Linked DNA regions of Homo sapiens: all the other regions are linked to region 2. Evidence: fine-mapped expression QTL. A gene starts in region 2. Each other region holds a variant in brackets. All regions are shown on one strand. Distances are from middle to middle. Region 1 overlaps GPR160 (G protein-coupled receptor 160). Region 2 holds the start of GPR160 (G protein-coupled receptor 160). Region 3 has its middle 31 kb from the start of GPR160.

Region 1 (2,758 bases), 27 kb before region 2:
TCATGAGGTCAGGAGATTGAGACCATCCTGGCTAACATGGTGAAACCCGTCTCTACTAAAAATACCAAAAATTAGCCGGGCGTGGTGATGGGCGCCTGTAGTCCCAGCTACTCGGGAGGCTGAGGCAGGAGAATGGCGTGAACCCGGGAGGCAGAGCTTGCAGGGAGCCGAGATCGTGCCACTGGACTCCAGCCTGGGTGACAGAGCGAGGCTCTGTCACAAAAAAAAAAAAAAAAAAAAAAAAAAAAGAAAAAGAAAAAGAATAGTGTCAAGTAATCTTCTATATATACATGAAGAAACCCTGGAAGGACACTTAAAAAGTGAGCACTGGGCATGTGTGCATGCCTATATCCCAGCTACTCAGGAGGCTGAGGCAGGAGGATTGCTTGAACCCAGTAGTTTGAGTATAGTCTGGGCAACATAGCGAGACCCCATCTCTTAAAAAAAAAAGTTAAAGACAGTGGTTACAGGGGTAGGAACTTGGCAGATGGGGTCATGAATGAGATGAAGACTTCAGTACATTTTTTTTCCTACTATGAACATTCTGCTAAACATGTGACTGTATTAAGTATTCAAAAAATTAAACACATTGAGTAAGGAAAAAAACAAGTTATCTACAAATTGGTACAATTCTCAATTACACAAATAATTTAAGTATTTAGTTTACTTTAAAAAGCTTTTTAATATTTCATGAAAGAAACTTTCCAACATAGAATTCTACACCAAACTAAATGGTCAATTAAGTGTAGGTATAAAATGAAGCCACATACTCAAAAATGTTTTACTCACATGAAGTTCTTAGGAAGCCAATGAAAGAAAGGCATACGTCATCAGAATGAGGAATAATAAACTAGGAGAGCAATACATGCGGTCCAGGAAATGGGATGCATTAGAAGAGAAGAAAAACCATGTAGAGTACAATTCGAGGATTCCGAGGTTGGTGAAGATTATCTAGGCATCAGATCCAGAGTGCACAATCTAAATTAGAGTAGGGCACATGGCTATGGGAGAAATTCCTCCAGGAAGGTGGAAATTCCAAATATCTTTGAACATACCAAAAGATTTACACAAAAGAGAAGAGTCTGTGGTTGAATTAGCGATAAGTATATAGAAAAAAAAGCAGACAGATAACTGAAAGGAAAACAAAAAAGTTTAGAAAGGAAATGTAATTGTAATGTACGATACTCATTAGCTATTTTATTTTAAAATAAAACTTTATTTTTTAAAATAATTTTTGTTTCAACTTTATGATGACAAATAATTTTCAAGTTTATTTCCTCATTTGTTTAAATACAAAGCTAAACCACAAACAGGTACAACAAAGATACTATCTCACATCTACACTCCCGTCAGATCCTCTTCGGCTGACCACTCACCAGGCTGACTGGGGGAAGAGACTTTCTTAGGTAGCACCGTTGTGAGGCCCAGGGTGGGGTGGGGGAATCAAAGGCGAGGACAGGCTCTCATACCTGCTTCCATTCAGATTTACCTGGGACCAGGGTGGGCAGGAGACACCAGGTCATGACTCCCGAGTCTCACTCAGTAAGAATGGGTCCTGCATAGCTGGGTGCGGTGGTTCACGCCTGTAATCCCAGCACTTTGGAAGGCCGAGGCGGGCGGAT[G/A]ACGAGATCAGGAGTTTGAGACCAGCCTGGCCAACATGGTGAAACCCCGTCTCTACTAAAAATACAAAAAATTAGCCAGGCGCGGTGGCATGTGCCTGTAGTCCCAGCTACTCAGGAGGCTGAGGCAGAAGAATCGCTTTAACGCGGGAGGTGGAGATTGCAGCGAGCCGAGATTGTGCCACTGTACTCCAGCCTGGGCGACAGAGTGAGACTCTGCCTCAAAAAAAAAAAAAAAAAAAAAAGAAAAGAAAAGAAAAGAATGGGTCCCGTGTAGGGAGGGTCGAGGCCGCCACCTACTCCTCCAGCCTTGACAGTCTAGGTGAAAACCTTGGCCTATCTTAGATTCCCGGGGGTCTCGGCCCTGCCCGCACACCTGGGCGCCTTTCTCTGAGGCTGGCAGCCGCAGTTCGGGTTGGGGGATCTGGGCTTGTGTACTCACCCCCGCCAGCTCATGGCTGCGACCTCGCAGGAGCCGTGGGTGTCTGACAAACACGAGGCCTAGACGGCAGCTCTGGAACTTTCAACCCAGCAGGACGCGGGGAAAACTGGCAGGGGTATTAAGTACGTAATTTCTGGTCCCACTACAAATCTCTAATTTTGATTAGAATAGAGTATCATCTCAATCTCTTCTACAAAAACAAAAGCAATGCCCCCCCCAAAAAAATACAGCCGCTTCACTCACTTCAAGACCTATGTACATGTAAGTTGTTTCCTGTGTTTTATTATTATTTTTTAATAAATTCAGCGTTCACATTTCTACAAAGAATTAGCCCAGTTTCAGGAAATTCTGCCCGGCAGGGAAGGCAAGCCACACTCTCCTCACCCACGTCTGGTTTGACTTCACACCCCGATGCTTCCAGGTGCTCAGAAAAGCCGCAGCGGGTGGAAGAGGAAATCTATGCCGGCCCGCGCTCAGGGCCACGAGCTCAGTAAGCTTTCGAGAAAGCACGGGGAAGACAAGCTTACTGCCCAATCTTTTAAAAATATATTCATACACTTCAAAGAGCGCCTGTCCAGATGTTAGGAGAACAAGAGCTTGGAGCCATCCCGTCCAGGCCTTTGGGAGACAGCGTCTTCCTCATACCTCGTCGCGGTGTGGGGGACACGTCCCAGCTCTTCCACCGGAGAGAGGAGAC
Region 2 (2,758 bases):
GCCTCCCAAAGTGCTGGGATTACAGGTGTGAGCCACCGCACTCGGGCATCATCTCCATTTTAAAAAACATTCATCAAATCAGGATCCAACCAACGTCCACACCTTGTATTGCCACCGAATTTCTCTTAAATCGTTTTGAAACTGCACACAGGTCCTCCTCCCTGCAATTCGCATAGCAACCAAGCTGATCCTCACTGACAATTTCCAAATAACTATAATAACTCTATTCTGGAGATATCACAAGTGCCGGTCTTAGAGCTTGTCAAATGTATACATATATGTTTATATTTATATATAAATGCACAAAAGCACACAAGAAACCATTTCACTCGAAGCAATAACAATCCTGAGAGCTAAACACTCGTTCATGTCTTTTGTGATGCTTCTCGGTGGGGGTTATCTCTGGGATTTAAGCGACACTTCCCCTTACCGGAGACATTTGCGCAAGTGTAGGACGAAGCGAGAGCGGTTCCTTCCAGCCGAACCTGCCTCCGGAGGCCCGGTCCGTGCGTTCGTCTCCGGACTGCAGGGGGCGGCCCTGCCACCACCTCGAGGCCACCTGCGCAGGTGAGAAAAGGAGTTTCAGTCTCCGGGTTCCTGGGGGTGGTCGCAGGTAATCTAGAGGGAATTTTGAGCCAGCCAGGATGGTCATCCAGGAACCTACCCGGACGCAACGGCCTCGGAAAACAAATAGCCGGGCAAGGCCCTGGGGCTTAATCCCAGTGGCGGGCGCGGGCGGGGGCGCCGTCCCCAACGCTCGAGGCCAGGGGAGGGGAGGCAAAGTCGGCCCCAATGAATGCACGCACGCGCGCGCGCGCGCGTGTGTGTGAGACTATTCACCTCTGGGCGCCAGGAAAGAGCGAAGAGTTGCATACACCCATTTCTATAACCTTGCTGGGTTTGTCATGTTTAAAAAGCATCTCCCCTGGAGAGAGGGTGGCGAGTCTCTGGGTGCGGGACACGCCCATTCCCCAGACCCCCTGCCCTCAAACCCACGACAGACCCCAGTTGCTAAGGCTCCGCGGTAATCCCCATCCCGAAGCAGGAAGGCTCGGGCGTCCGGGCTCCACTCCTGGATCTCTTAAGTAGCAGAGAACCCCCAGCCCCTGAGTTCCTGCAAAGGAAATTCCTTCCCCTCCCAGGCGCGCTGAACGCCCGGCCAGGGAGGCTGGGAGCGGCGCGGGGACCGTTCGCCGCCCCGAGGCTGGGACGCCGGTGGCGAGAGCGCCGGGCGCCCTCCACCTGCGCCCGCACTCACCCGAGGATCGATGGCTGTCGGCTCCGCAAGGTTGAGGCCCCGACACCTGCAGCGCCCGTGCCCAGGTGACCGCCCGAGGGAGGGGCGAGGGCCCAGCTCGCCCGCCTGGTCCCGCCCCGCCCCGCCCCGCCCCGCGCGCTCCCGGGAGGGGCAGGGGAGCACGGCCCCGGGACCCCGCGGCGACCCTGCTGTGGCTCAGCCGGCTCCAGACCAGGAAATGCGGGCGTCAGAGACGGGCAACCTTTGAGCGCGCACGTCCCGTCCGGGCCCAACGAAACAAGGGCCGGAGGGCGCCGCCTGCCGGCGGGACGGAAAGATATCACAGAGACTGTCACCCCCCGCCGGCTAGGAGAGGGCTGAGTTGAGGCTGGCAGAGGGACGCAGCCAGGGGTGCGCAGTGCGGGAGCCGCTTGGGGGCTCAGTGAGACCCCCTTCCTCATGCCACATCTTGAGGACCCGGCCCCTGTCCTAGGAGCTCCCCATCTCCCCAGCAGGCGGGCGAGCGGGGGCCACTGGGTCAGGGCCTCTCCTTCCCTTACCTCTGCAAATGTAAACTTGGCAGTTGTCTCCAGATAAGAGTTTACACAGGGTGGCCAGGCGGTGGCTCATGCCTGTAATCCTAGCACTTTGGGAGGTCAAGGTGGGCGGATCACTTGAGGTCAGGAGTTTGAGACCAGCCTGGCCAACATGGTCCACGTTGGTCCCCATGTCTACTAAAAATACAAAAATTAGCCGGGCTTGGTGGCACGCACCTGTAATCCCAGCTATTTGGGAAGCTGAGGCACGAGAATCGCTTGAACCCAGGAGGCGGAGGTTGCAGTGAGCTAAGACCGCACCACTGCACTCCAGCCTGGGCAGCAACAGCAAGACTCCGTATCAAAAAAAAAAAAAAAAAAAAAAAAAAAAAAAAAAAAGAGTATACACAGGGTGACAGAACTTCTTGAAACTTGTATGCTTCTAAGCAACCGCCTGCAGTGTACTGTGAATTCAGATTTTTAAATAAAAATCTGCAAATATTAAATAGCCCATATATTGCATTGCCTTTTTTGTGTCAACAGTGCTAATTTGTTGTCATTCAACAAATATTTGTTGAGCACCTACGACTTGCCGGTCATTTAAACATTTAAAATATCGAACAATTAGGCCAGCGCAGTGGCTCAAGCCTGTAATCCCAGCACTTTGGGAGGCCGAGGCGGGTGGATCACTTGAGGTCACGAGTTCAAGACCAGCCTGGCCAACATGGTGAAACCCTGCCTCTACTAAAAATACAAAAATTAGTTGGGCGTAATGGCACATGCCTGTAGTCCCAGCTACTTGGGAGGCTGAGGCAGGAGAATGACTTGAACCCAGGAGGCAGAGGTTGCAGTGAACCAAGATCACGCCATTACACTCCAGCCTGGGCAACAGAGACAGACTTCATCTGAAACAAATAAAATAAAATAAAATATTGCACAATTTCTTCCTTCTCCTCTTCACGCAGAGCCTTGAACAAGGGGAGTG
Region 3 (2,758 bases), 31 kb after region 2:
ACCTATATTTATACTTTAATATATGTGCATAAAGAAACTCTGGGCTGGGCACGGTGGCTCATGCCTGTAATCCCAGCACTTTGGGAGGCCAGGGCGGTCGGATCACCTGAGGTCAGAAGTTTGAGACCAGCCTGCCCAACATGTCAAAACCCCGTCTCTATTAAAAATACAAAAATTGGCTGGGCGCGGTGGCTCCCGCCTGTAATCCCAGCACTTTGGGAGGCTGAGGTGGGCAGATCACGAGGTCAGTAGATCGAGACCATCCTGGCTAACATGGTGAAACCCCGTCTCTATTAAAAATACAAAAAATCAGGTGGGCGTGGTAGCGGGCGCCTGTAGTCCCAGCTACTTGGGAGGCTGAGGCAGGAGAATGGCGTGAACCCAGGAGATGGAGCTTGCAGTGAGCCGAGATCACGCCACTGCATTCCAGCCTGGGCGACAGAGCGAGACTCTGTCTCAAATAAATAAATAAATATAAATAATTAAAAAATAAATTAAAAAATATAAATAAAAATACAAAAATTATGTGGGTATGGTGGTGGGCGCCTGTAATCCCAGCTACTAGGGAGGCTGAGGCACAAGAATCACTTGAACCCAGAGGCGAAGGTTGCAGTGAGCTGAGATCGCACCACTGCACTCCAGCCTGGGCGACAGAGTGAGACTCTGTCTCAAAAAAAAAAAGAAACTCTGGAAGGGGGTGAAGTGGAAGGGGAAACTGGGAAGATGCAGGGTAAGAAAGAAATGTTTCGCCTTTTATAATTTTTTATTTTTGAATCGTGAATATAATAAAAAACATTAAACTTTTAAAATAGAAAGAAAAGAGAAAGAAGAAGCTCTTGAAGACCTCTGAAATGCAGACGCTGGCAAGTTCCCACATAGGACTCTTGATTTTCTCAGTCTACCTCTTCTGGCCTCAGTTCCATCAGTCAAACACAGTCCATTTTTTCCATGTGTCTTCAGTTTCTCTCCCCAGCTTCTCCTTCTTGTGTGCATTCAGGTTTTCAATATCACCACGAACAAGTTCAAGTCATTCCTACCCTTGAGAAAAGGGGCTCTTTTAATCCTGCTGTCCCTCTAGTTACTTACATTGTTACTCTTTCCCCTCTCAGCCAGGCATTTTGAAAG[A/G]TTGCGCTCACATCTCACCACTTCCTGTTCATTCACTCTCGACCTTGCTGCTGTCTGGCTCTTCCCCAGCCTCTGATGAAACTGCTCTTGCAAGCACTAAACTGACCTCCATATCGCAAAGCCCAATGCAATCCCTGCTGCATTTGACTCCACTGTTAGTAGCTTCATTCTTGACTCTTTCTCCATTGGCTGGTCTCACTGCTTTCCCTGCTTAGCTTTTACCTCTCGGAGTTTTTCCTCCAGCCTCCTGATGTGCTTCTCTATCTCTGCTCTGAAATGATGATGTCTCCACGATCCAACCTTGACTCAAGAGTCTTCCCTCTCTATTTGGCCTTCTTATTAATATCAACCACTTTCATGATTTTATCCACCAGCTGATGGTTGATCTGATGACTCCACAACTGGAGGCTCTAATTCTGTTCTTTCTCCCACCTTCACATTATTATATATATCAGTGGCCTGCTGGACATTTGCATCTGGTTGTCCCATTTTAACATAACATATTCAACACTGAACTACCAAACTAGATGCTCTTCTAAAGTCTCACAGTTTTCTTTTGGTCCATCTAGTTGCTCAGGCCAGAAACCTGGGATCACCCTAAATTCTGTCCTCTCCCTCTCCACAATCCACCTTTGCATCCTTTATCTTCTTAGTTATTCCTGCATCCACCCCATCTCAACCCCGCCTACTACCACTCTCCTCCTGAGATCATAAAGGTCTAAGCTAATTGAGAAGCAAGATGGTAGAGTCAAGAGACTTTTAACATACTTTAGTAAGTAAAGGATAATTTTGAGGTAGAGTGAAGAGACTTTGGTGACTAATATACATGCGTGGGGACTCAGGATGACTGAATTTTTAGCTGGGTCAGCTGTGACTTAGGGTCAGAAAGGGGAGCAGGCCTGCAGGGATGGAGATTAAAGTTCCATTAAAGTTCCATTTGGACATGTTAATATTGAGGTGCCCATGGGACTGAGACTCATAGTGAAAGTCCAGGTTGGAGCAAAAGATTGAGGGTCACATTTGAAGCAAAGGAAATGAATGTAATTACCCAAGGGAGTGTTTCAAATGAGCATGTACCAAGGAAGGAGTTTTGGAGACTCAAAGTTTCAGGAGCAAATAGAGAAGAAGGAGTGGCCAGAAGTAAAAAAAAAAAAAGAACCAGGAAAAAAGCCATGTCCTGGATGCTGAAGGAAGAAAGAATTTTATTTTATTATTATTCTGAGACAGGGTCTCCCTTTGTCACTCAGACTGGAGTGCAGTGGCAGGATCATGGCTCACTGCAACCTTGACCTCCTGAGCTCAAGCTATCCTCTGCCTTAGCCTCCTGAAGTAGCTGAGACTACAGGTGTATGTCACCATGCCAGGCTAATTTTAAAATTATTTTTGGGAGAGAGGGGGGGTCTCACTATGTTGCCCAGGCTGGTCTTGAAGTCCTGGGCTCAAGCAATTCTCCTGCTTCAGCCTCTCAAAGTGTTGGGATTACAGGTGGGATCCACCACACCAAGCTTGGAAGAGATAATTTTAAGAAGGTGAGAGGTGAAGGTTTGGATGCTGATGGTGAGGAACGATGCAGGGATAAAGTGGGATAAAGGCTGAAAAGAGGTTATTTGGCTCAGCAGTTGGGTGAGTTTGT

What was found. PIP is the estimated chance that this variant, and not a neighbour inherited with it, causes the effect. A credible set is the group of variants that fine-mapping cannot tell apart.
Region 1: its variant is the best candidate, but not a certain one, in a credible set for the expression of GPR160 in whole blood (INTERVAL, PIP 0.57).
Region 3: its variant is the best candidate, but not a certain one, in a credible set for the expression of GPR160 in blood mononuclear cells (TOPMed, PIP 0.59).

Annotation. Positions count from the first base shown.
Region 1 is chr3:170,063,621-170,066,378 of GRCh38, reverse strand. The region is part of intron 2 of GPR160 (G protein-coupled receptor 160); the gene reads right to left. Among named protein-coding and RNA genes, the nearest start is that of GPR160, 27 kb to the right of the region's middle. The variant G/A (reference allele first, on the strand shown) is at 1,623.
Region 2 is chr3:170,036,716-170,039,473 of GRCh38, reverse strand. It overlaps GPR160 (G protein-coupled receptor 160), which reads right to left and starts at 1,479. Exons shown (of 4, transcript NM_014373.3): 1 at 1,259-1,479; 2 at 431-559. RefSeq lists silencers at 455-504, 665-714, 1,025-1,504 and an enhancer at 100-599.
Region 3 is chr3:170,005,616-170,008,373 of GRCh38, reverse strand. No RefSeq gene overlaps it. Among named protein-coding and RNA genes, the nearest start is that of GPR160, 31 kb to the left of the region's middle. RefSeq lists an enhancer at 1,053-1,132. The variant A/G (reference allele first, on the strand shown) is at 1,126.